Homo sapiens: one gene and its partners. Changing the gene in region 1 together with any one later gene gives a genetic interaction. Each region holds a gene or a part of one and is shown in the gene's direction. Other genes may lie near its edges.

Region 1 (3,226 bases):
GACTGGGGCTGCCCCCCGATAGCCTCCTGGGCTGGGATGTGCTCAGGGCCCCCCAGACCCCCTTCTGGCCTTTGCTGGCTTTGCAGCCAGCATCCATCTGGTGGGTGCTGGCTTCTGAGTGCCACCTGGGACACAGGCCTCAGGGTGGAGGGGACATCTGTCAGGCTTGGAGTCAGGTCAGCCTGCCTGCTCCTAGAGGACATGGCTGAGCTTCTGTGGTCACAGCCACCCCTTGCACGGCCTGGTCCCAGCTCCTGAGTGTGTGGCAGGTACCCTGGGCCCAGAGGAGCTGGGTCGGAAAACTGGACCGCCCTGGTGCCAGCCTGACAGGCGCCACTGCTTCTGGGCGTTTGCAGCTGGTTCCGGAAGAAACATCCTCCGGCTGAAGCACCAGTGCCCATCCCACCGAGCCCAGACACCAAGGACCGGTGGCGCAGCATGACTGTGGTGCCGTACTTGGAGGACCTGCACGGCGCGGACGAGGACGAGGACCTCTTCGACATCGAGGATGACATCATCTACACTCAGGACTTCACGGTGCCCGGTGAGTCTGGCGGGGGCCCCTGCCCGGCTCTGCTGACTCGGCCAGGATGTCCCACGGGAGCAGGGTGCCTGCCTGTCTGCAACAAGGACAGCTTCTGCCCTCTGGTGGCCAATCCCACGTCCCCAAAGCCTCCAGCCCACCTGCAGGCTGCCTCCGCCCTGCGGGCCGCTGGGACATGGCTGAAAGGTGTGGGGTCAGCGGGGGCACCAGCCCAGGCCTGTCTGGCCAGGAGGGTTCCTCAGGCGTCTCTCCGGGTGCTGCCCAGCCAGGCACCACCCACCGGCCTTGGCCTGAGTCCCAGCAGGAGCAGGCGGGGGAGCCCCAGGGTCGGGGGAGGGTAGGTGAGAGTCAGGGTGCAGGGTGGCCCCTCAGACAGCTGGCATGAGAGAGGGTCCAGTGGCCCTCCCTCCCGTCGTCCCTGAGGCCTGCCCGCTGGCCCTGATGCCGGCCGCCCTTCTTCCCTAGGTGGCGAGGAGGCGTCTGAGGCAGGGCTTAGAGCGGAGCGCGGCTTGCAGAAGAGCGAGGGCTCAGACCTTTCAGGAGAGGAAGCCTCTCGGCCGGCGCCGCAGTAGTGCCTGAGGAGGAGCTCAGGGCCTTAGCGTAGGGGCGGCCCACATTGGCAGCCAGCCCCTCCCCGCCATGCTCCCGGCTTGGCTGTGTTCGGCCCAGGGCTGGGCCGTGTCATAAAGAGTTTTGCAGTGTATCTGCAGGGTGGATGCTTGCTGCGCTCGGGCTGGAGCCTGAGGGGGCTTTCTGCTTTACTGTTTCAGCGGGAAGTGGTGGGCAGGGGCCGGCCTGAGAAGGGGGGTACGCCAGGCAGGTTGGGATGTGAGGACCCAGTGCACAGGGTCCACCCCCGGGCCCGAGGGTCCCAGAATAGTGGGGGCCCTGCAGAGAGCCCCCCATTAGGTCCCTCAGCACTCCTGGGCCCCTCATCAAACCCCTAGGCTCAGCTCAGTAGCTGGTCCCCAGGAGAGTACAGTGTGGGGGCCCCCGAGAGCACAGTGTATGGGGGTCCCCGGGGGGTACAGTGTCTGGGGGCCCCCCAGGAGGATGCAGCATGTGGGGGCCCCCCAGGAGGGTACAGCGTGTGTGGGGCCCCCAGGATCACAGGGTCTCAGCTCCTGGGCTCTTGGATTTGCAGCACCACGACCATCGCGTCTGGTCTGTTGGAACGGGAGGTGCTGCTGGGTACCCTGGTCACTAGGGTGTGCTGGGAGGTGGGGGCCCCTCATGGTGCCCATCCTTGGGGCCTGGCTGCAATTTGACCCCAGGCCCAGGGTCTTCTGCCTTTCAGAGCCCTGGTGCCCTGAGACGGGCAGCCAGGCAAATCCCAGGCAGGAGGGCCAGTTAGGGCAGGGCCAGCCCAGGCAGGTTGCGAGAGTCCCTACTGGGACGTGGACCACACGCTGACCCCCACGGCCGCCCCTGCAGGCCAGGATCCCTGAGCCAGGACCCGGCACTGGCTTCCCTCCTGGGGACCCTCAGGCCTGTGTGAGACCTGGGCTGCCCTGGGGTGAGGTGCCTGGGAGGAGAGCAGGGGCTGGGCCACCTTTTTCATGACCCTGCTAAGCCCACTGTGGGTGGTGAGGAGGAGTACCCAGCAGGGGGAAGGGCCGCCAGACCACTCGGCATGGCTGAGGCCTCAGTACTCAGTACTGGGTACTCAGGTGGACGCCCCTCCCACTGCTCAGATGCTGGGGACAGGCTCAACTTCAGGCTTCAGCGTGAGCCCCGTCCCTGACCTGCAGAGCCCCCTTGCGTTGGGGCAGGACAGCCCGGCGCCCTCGGGTCAGGCCATCCTCTGCGCTCTGCCGGGGCTGCTGCATCGGCCTCTGCGTGCCTCCACTTTGGCCTCACGTGTCCCTACCCAGGATGCGGGTCCTGCTGCCAACACCCAGATCCCAGGGAAGGGGCTTGGGCTAGATCCTGGGCACCAGTGCAGACAGGAGTGTGGGGTGGGGCAAGGGCCCAGTGGCGGCTGTGCCCGCTGATGCAGAGCTGGGGCACCTTGTCCACAGGGTCTGCCCCACCAGAGACGGGCTGGGCCCAAGCTCAGACCTATGGGTGCAATTGGTGCCTCCTCACCAAGGTCTTTTTTATCTTTTTTTTTTTTTGGAGACAGAGTCTTGCTCTGTCGCCCAGGCTGGAGTGCTGTGGTGCGATCTCGGCTCACTGCAACCTCCACCTCCCGGATTCAAGCAATTCTGCCTCAGCCTCCTGAGTAGCTGGGATTACAAGTGCGCGCCAGCATGCCCGGCTAATTTTTGTATGTTTAGTAGAGACGGGGGTTTCACCATGTTGGTCAGGCTGGTCTCAAACTCCTAACCTCATGATCTGCCCACCTCGGCCTCCCAAAGTGCTGGGATTACAAGCGTGAGCCACCGCGACCGGCCCAAGGTGCTTTTTTAAAGCTAGTGACTTCCTGTGCACATGGGGTGGGTGTGTGGCAAGTTCTGGAAGCTGCTGAGTCAGCCACTGGTCCATTCTCGGAGCTGGGGCTCTGCACTGGGCACATGAGCTCTGGGGCAGCCCGGGGCGGCCTCCCACTGACTTCGCCCGGGAGGGGCCTCGGGGATGGCTCGGCAGCCAGTGTGTTCGCGGAGTCCTCGCCAACCACCACGGCTCCTCGCAGGGACAGTACGTGGGCAGCTTCCTGCACTTTCCCCTGCCATTGTGAGA
Region 2 (3,649 bases), on another chromosome or scaffold:
TGCGTGCTTGTAATCCCAGCTACTTGGGAGGCTGAGGCATGAGAAGTGCTTGAACCCATATGTATATATGTATGTGTATGTACACACACATACACACACACACACACACACACACACACACACACACATATGTATATAGCTGCCTCAAAGTCTTTTATCCCTGATATAATTTATATATTTTATGTATGGTTGTTTTTTGTTAAGGATAGCAAACTAGGAAAAATAAATATTTTTATTTCAAAATCGTTTTAAAATAAATAGTAGAATTAATTAAAATAAAAGTGGCCCATTATTCTACCACTTAGTTCCAATGACAATTGAAAAAGAGAAGTAGTACATGTATGTGGTTAGAAAATGAAAAGAGAGGCTTTTTCTAGATCCTCCATCTCCTTAATCCTTTAAGGTAACTACTGTAAGATTTTATATATCTATTCTACCAGAATGTTTAAAAAATGTATTTGCTATAATGTATGTGCACATATTCTTTAAAAAAGCAATTTACATGAATTTAATCATTCTATACACGTTATTCAACATGTTTTTCTCACTTAACATAGAGAGCCTAATCAACACATAGACAAATCTAAATCATTTTTAAGGGCTAAAGTTTTTGTATTAATTTACCATAATTTATTTAACATGTCCCTTATGGGTAGACATTTGGTTAATTTTCAATTTTTTGGCTATTTAACAGTACAGGGTACATCTATTCACATTAATGGTAAAATTTTAAATTTTGGTAGTTTTTTGACAAATTGCCTATGTACTTCTACTACTAGAATTTTATACTTCTACTAAAAATATATATACTTTTCTAATTTTGTACATTTTTAATAGTATATGAGACACTTGTTAGGGCTGGGTTTTATCAAACATTTTATTTTTTTATTAATGCACATAATGAGTATTTTTTTTTGAGACAGGATCTCACTCTGTTGCCCAGGCTGGAGTGCAGTGGCGTGGTCACTGCTCACTGCGGTTTAATTTTTTTTGTTTTTTTGTAGAGATTGAGTCTCCCTGTGCTGCCCAGCTGGTCTTGAACTCCTAGGCTCATGCAGTCCTCCGGCCTTGGCCTCTCAAAATGTTGGGATTATAGGCATGAGCCACTGTGCCCAGCCTGTAATGAAATTTTTTTATTTCCAGTGATAGAATGGGGTGGAGTGCAGTGGCTCATGCCTGTAATCCCCAGCACTTTGGGAGGCCGAGGCAGGCGGATCGCTTGAGTTCAGGAGTTCAAGACCAGCCTGAGCAACATGACAAAACCCTGTCTCTACAAAAAAGGAGCCATATGTGGTGATGCACTTGTGGTTCCAGCTACTTGGTGGCTGAGGCACAAGAATTGCTTGAACCTGGGAGGCGGAGGTTGCAGTGAACCAAGATTGGATCGTGCCACTGCACCCCAGGTGACAGAGTGAGACTCCCATCTCTGAAAAAAAAAAAGGTAATAGAATGGCAAAGGGCATTAGTAGATAACATAAAAGAAGAAACACAAATTACTATTGAACCTTGTTAGACTATTCATACAACACTATGTTAAACTTTGCTAGAAACTATAAAAAATACAAATCAAAACAAGATTCTATTTTTTACTTTTAAGATAGAGATAACAAAAGATAACACCAGTGTTGATAAGGATGTGGGAAAAGGGTAATGCAAAGCAATATATACTTTCTGGAGGATAATTTCACTATATGTTTTCAAGAAACTTAAAAATACCTTGTAGCGTCTGATCCCATAATGCCATTTCTAAAAATATAGACTAAGAAAATATTTAGAAACCAGCATAAGAATGCTCACTGCAGCCTTATGTCTAAAGCAGAAATTGGTAACAGTCTATAAGCCCAGTAATAAGAAAACTGGTTCATCAGCTATGGCACATTAATTCAATGTACATATATGAGCAGCAACGAAAAGATGCTTAGTGATGTCAAGATTTTCCTTGTATGATTTTTAATACGCTAGACAGAAGAAAACAAAGGGAATATGCTTTATAAAAATTTTTGTTTATTGTGGCTGAATTGTTAATAATCCTCAATGCCTGGGGAACATTTGCTTTGTTCTTGTTTTTATTACTATTTAGAGATAGGGCTTTGTTTTGTCATCCAGGCCGGAGTGCAGTGGCTTGATCATGGCTCACTGCATCCTCGAACTCCTGGGCTGAAGTGATCCTCCTGCCTCAGCTTCCTGAGTAGCTAGGACCATTGATGTACGCCACCAATCCTAGAAAATTTTTTATTTTTTGTAGAGACAGGGTTTTGCTACATTGCCCAGGCTGGTATCAAACTCCTCACCTAAAACAGTCCTTTTGCCTAAGCCTCCCAAAGTGCTCACACCTGTCATCGTGCCTTGCTTGTTCTTGTTATTTTAATATTGGGTCACATTGTAGAGATATCCTTATATACACATGTATAGAAGAAATATGAAATGAAATACACCAAAATGTTTCTAGTGCATTCTTTGTGTAATAGAATTATGGATAATTTAGGCTTTTTTTGGTACTCCTGAATATTTTGTAGTGAATACTCTTACTTTCTTTTTTTCCCCTTAGGACATTCCAACCTACCTACTTACCTTCCTTCCTTCTTATTTATATTTGAATAAGAAATACTATCACATGGCTCAAAGTTGAAAAGGTACAAAAGGGTCTACAGAGAAAAATCTCTCACTCCTGTGCCCAGTCACTTAATTCTCATCCTTGGAAGCAACCAGTGATACCATTGTTTTGTGAATCCTTTCAGAAGTATTTCATGCCTAACATCAGTTTAATCAGAAAAAAAAAGGCATAACAAACATATTTAAAAGAAATTTTTTTCAAGTTAATTTAGGGTATTTGGAGCTCTTCCGATTTGGACTTCTATCTAAGTCTGAGTCAACCAGACTTCGTTGTGATTGTAGCTATGGTATTGTCTCAAAAAAGACAAAAAATTAGCCAGGTGTGGTGGCGTAGCCAGTAAAATCTTAGCCTTGTGGCTTTAATGATGTTCCTCAAATTCTGAGATAAGCTTATTTTATTCCTTCTATGCTAATATTGGTTCACATTTCAGTTATGCATATTTGTTTCTAGGGAAAATCCTGCTATTTTTATCATGGAGTTCATAAAATTAGTGATCAGCACACATTACAGACTTTCCAAGGGATGTGCAAAGCCTGGGATATAGAAGAACTTGTCAGCCTGGGGAAGAAACTAAAGGCCTGTCCATATTACACAGCCCGAGAACTAATACAAGATGCTGACATCATATTTTGTCCCTACAACTATCTTCTAGATGCACAAATAAGGGAAAGTGTGAGTATATGTGTAAAAATGAGAACCTTCTTCCTACTCATGGAGATGTAAATGTTGAATGTAAAAGCTTTTAGATGTTTTAATTTTTTTTGCTTTAATTTATGTAAATAAATTTGTGTAAACATATTAGAGTACTGAAAACATATCCTAACATGGGTTAAAATCAACCCACTCATTTTAATTTCCAAAATAACAAGCAGTTTTAAGGAACATAGTGACTGAAGTGGGATTACAGCAGGATTTCTCTTTGCATTTATGAATATTCAAAAAGAATTATTTAGAAACATTTCTCTGAAAAAACTATGTTTTGAAGAACTTATGTGGGGGAATAAAATTATGCCTTGTGAGCTTTGAGAAGTGAAC
Region 3 (3,749 bases), on another chromosome or scaffold:
CCCTGCCTGCCTCCCCAGAAAAGCCAGGGGCCGCACCTCCTGGTGCCCCACGGGCCCCCCATTAGCCAGCACTGGCTCAGTGTCTGTGAACGAGGTGCTAGGCCCGTGGGGCAAACTGGAGGGACGGGAGATCTGGAGACCAGACTGGGAGACCCAGCCCCGTATGCTGGGACGATGGGCGTCGAGACAGACTGTGATGTGGGGCTTTGGGGAGGGCTGGACACCGACCGCGACAGCCCTCGGTGGGAGTGCCCCTGTGGGGGTGCTGGCCTCAGGGCAGGAGTGCCCCTGGGGACAGTTCAGGAACAGCCTCTAAGGGGCACTGCAAGGCCCACGTGGGGCCCACCCCATTCATAACACAGGCTGGATGTGGCCTAGCGAGGCTGGCAGGGACAGAGAACCAAGAGCTTCTGGCCACACAGGCTCAGGGTCACAAGACCTGTGGCCTCTACCCATGGGGCTCCCGGCATAGTGTGGCGGGGGGAGCTGGGGAGCCTCCAGGCTATGAGGAGATGTGCCGCGAGGTGGCGAGATTCTGACCCTGCCTGGAGGGCTGCTGGGGACACCCAACCCTTCTCCAGTAGAACCATGCGTGGCAGTGGGAGGGGAGGACCTCCAGAGGGAGACCCTCAGCTCTGGAGCCCAGATCCCCTCCTGATGGAGTAGGAAGGGGACAGTGAAAATTCAGGAAGCTGGACGCTCCTCCGGAACCCGCCCCCGCCCAGGTCAGAGGGTCCAGGGAGGGGCCAGTGGGAAGGACCCAGGTAGGCCCTGCCTCTTGCTGCAGCGGTGGCCTGGGCTGGGCAGGGGAGCCAGCAAGCCACTGAGGGTCCCAGCCCCTTCCCCAAGGGCCCTTGGGGGGCAGGGAGGACGCCACAGCCTCTGCGTCCCTGCTCCCCCTTCTCTTTGTGGGCTCCGTCCAGGGCCTCTGCTCTCTCCCTCCCTGTGTCAGCTTTGCCTTGTGCCAGAGTTGGTTTGGGAGTGAGGACAGAAGACCATCTTGTCCCATAAAGGCACTCAAAGTCCCTGGTGCTGACGGTTACACATGGGTGTAGAGTTTCCAGCATGGGCGCCCCTGGGGACTCAGAGCGCCTCCCCAAAGACGGGGCCTTTTCTGAAGGCGCTGCACTCCAGGAAGGACTTACCGGCTGTTGGGAAGGCAGCCTCCCCAGAACTTGGTGTGAAAAAGGGCCCTCTCCTCCCCATGGAGCCTCCCAGCGGGGGGCGGGGAACGGCAACCAGCGGGACACTGCCGCCCTCCCCCAGTTACTGCCCGGGGGTCCGACTCCGTGGGTGGGTGGCAGCTCGCCTCCGAAAGTCTGGCAGCACCGGCCCTCATCAGCAGCCCTTTCTTTCCCACCCGGGGGGTCTCTCCTTCTGAGAGGTCGCGGGGGAGGTGGGGGGGCTGTGCGCGGGGGAGGCCTCAGCGGAATCCCGCCCGGCCTGAGAAGAAAGGGAGCCCCCGGGGAGGAGGCGGCCCCGACCCGCCCCCGCCCGCCCGCCCCGCCGCCGATTGGCCCTGAGCCGCTATATCTGGGCGCCCGCCCGGCCCGAGGCCACCGCCGTCCCCACCGCCATCCGCCCTCCCGGCCTGGCCTGCCCTTGCGCCCGGCTCCCCAGTGCCCGCCGCCCGCCCGCCGCGCTCCCGCGCTCCGTTCCGCCCAGGCCGCGCCCAGCTGGAATGCAGAGATCGCCGCCCGGCTACGGCGCACAGGACGACCCGCCCGCCCGCCGCGACTGTGCATGGGCCCCGGGACACGGGGCCGCCGCTGACACGCGCGGCCTCGCCGCCGGCCCCGCCGCCCTCGCCGCGCCCGCCGCGCCCGCCTCGCCGCCCAGCCCGCAGCGCAGTCCCCCGCGCAGCCCCGAGCCGGGGCGCTATGGCCTCAGCCCGGCCGGCCGCGGGGAACGCCAGGCGGCAGACGAGTCGCGCATCCGGCGGCCCATGAACGCCTTCATGGTGTGGGCAAAGGACGAGCGCAAGCGGCTGGCTCAGCAGAACCCGGACCTGCACAACGCGGTGCTCAGCAAGATGCTGGGTGAGCGGCGGGAGGGCGGCAGAGAAGGGGGAGAGGGCGGGGGGGGCTCGGGCCGGGGTGGGGCGGGGGGGGCAGGGGTCCCGGGCCGCGGGGTGCGGGGGCTGCGCCAAACCCTCGCGGGGCGTCCCGGGCGCACGGAGGGCTCGGCGCCCACCCGCCCGACGGCGTTCCACTCACTGGCGCCCACGGCCCGCAGGCAAAGCGTGGAAGGAGCTGAACGCGGCGGAGAAGCGGCCCTTCGTGGAGGAAGCCGAACGGCTGCGCGTGCAGCACTTGCGCGACCACCCCAACTACAAGTACCGGCCGCGCCGCAAGAAGCAGGCGCGCAAGGCCCGGCGGCTGGAGCCCGGCCTCCTGCTCCCGGGATTAGCGCCCCCGCAGCCACCGCCCGAGCCTTTCCCCGCGGCGTCTGGCTCGGCTCGCGCCTTCCGCGAGCTGCCCCCGCTGGGCGCCGAGTTCGACGGCCTGGGGCTGCCCACGCCCGAGCGCTCGCCTCTGGACGGCCTGGAGCCCGGCGAGGCTGCCTTCTTCCCACCGCCCGCGGCGCCCGAGGACTGCGCGCTGCGGCCCTTCCGCGCGCCCTACGCGCCCACCGAGTTGTCGCGGGACCCCGGCGGTTGCTACGGGGCTCCCCTGGCGGAGGCGCTCAGGACCGCGCCCCCCGCGGCGCCGCTCGCTGGCCTGTACTACGGCACCCTGGGCACGCCCGGCCCGTACCCCGGCCCGCTGTCGCCGCCGCCCGAGGCCCCGCCGCTGGAGAGCGCCGAGCCGCTGGGGCCCGCCGCCGATCTGTGGGCCGACGTGGACCTCACCGAGTTCGACCAGTACCTCAACTGCAGCCGGACTCGGCCCGACGCCCCCGGGCTCCCGTACCACGTGGCACTGGCCAAACTGGGCCCGCGCGCCATGTCCTGCCCAGAGGAGAGCAGCCTGATCTCCGCGCTGTCGGACGCCAGCAGCGCGGTCTATTACAGCGCGTGCATCTCCGGCTAGGCCGCCGGCGCCGCCCGGGTCCCTGCAGCGCTTCCTCCCGCAGCCCCCGCGACCGATCCGACCGCGTCGCTGCCGCTCTGCTCTCTCATACGCGTGTATGTTTGGTTCCATGTCACAGCCCCCTAGGAGCCAGTGATGCTCGGCCTTGCGCCCGTTCCACCTCCCAGGCCACCCTTCCTGGGCTTCTGGGCCACCTGCCCTCGGGGGGCCCCTGCGAGGGTGCCTGGAGTTCCCACGTGTCCCGGGGCTTTTCCAGGAAGCCCGAGCCCAGGACCTGTTGGCAGAGTTGCCAGGGTTACATTTTTGAAGCACCTGCTCCTTTTCTTGCAGTGTATTTTCTACAACCAGATTGTATTAATATTTTTTACTTTGCCCTTTTAAAAAATATACCTAATACAATATATTTAATTTTTAATTAAACTCTTAAACTTTTCTTCCAAGAAGTTTCAGTGATCAGAAGCGTCACTGTGGCAAAGACTTTTGCAATGTGAGGAATACAGATGTTTGCTTTCTATAAAGGAGGAGCCTGGAGCTGGGTCCCCGGACGGAGAGGCCACAATAAATCCTCGGGCCTTTCCTCTGCACACTGACATCTGTGGTGTTTGCAGGGAGGGAAAAGCAGTTCCCCAAATAGCCCTGGACGCCCCTTCCCTCCGAATCGCCCCCAGGGAGCCTGACTCCTAGCTTGAACCTCATAGCACTCCTTCATCCTTCCGT

Evidence for each region.
Region 2: changes in STK11 (region 1) and BRIP1 together harm fitness more than expected from each alone (negative genetic interaction), as found in Homo sapiens cells (one large-scale study listed by BioGRID).
Region 3: changes in STK11 (region 1) and SOX18 together harm fitness more than expected from each alone (negative genetic interaction), as found in Homo sapiens cells (one large-scale study listed by BioGRID).

The regions. Positions count from the first base shown.
Region 1 is NC_000019.10:1,222,629-1,225,854, forward strand, and holds part of STK11 (serine/threonine-protein kinase STK11), read left to right. Parts: intron 1-356; coding exon 357-544; intron 545-1,009; coding exon of another isoform or gene 1,010-1,116; exon of another isoform or gene 1,117-1,247; intron 1,248-3,226. UniProt on the Homo sapiens protein: Tumor suppressor serine/threonine-protein kinase that controls the activity of AMP-activated protein kinase (AMPK) family members, thereby playing a role in various processes such as cell metabolism, cell polarity, apoptosis and DNA damage response.
Region 2 is NC_000017.11:61,800,890-61,804,538, reverse strand, and holds part of BRIP1 (Fanconi anemia group J protein), read left to right. Parts: intron 1-3,064; coding exon 3,065-3,286; intron 3,287-3,649. UniProt on the Homo sapiens protein: DNA-dependent ATPase and 5'-3' DNA helicase required for the maintenance of chromosomal stability. Acts late in the Fanconi anemia pathway, after FANCD2 ubiquitination.
Region 3 is NC_000020.11:64,047,449-64,051,197, reverse strand, and holds SOX18 (transcription factor SOX-18), read left to right. Parts: upstream 1-1,558; 5' UTR 1,559-1,681; coding exon 1,682-2,039; intron 2,040-2,235; coding exon 2,236-3,032; 3' UTR 3,033-3,616; downstream 3,617-3,749.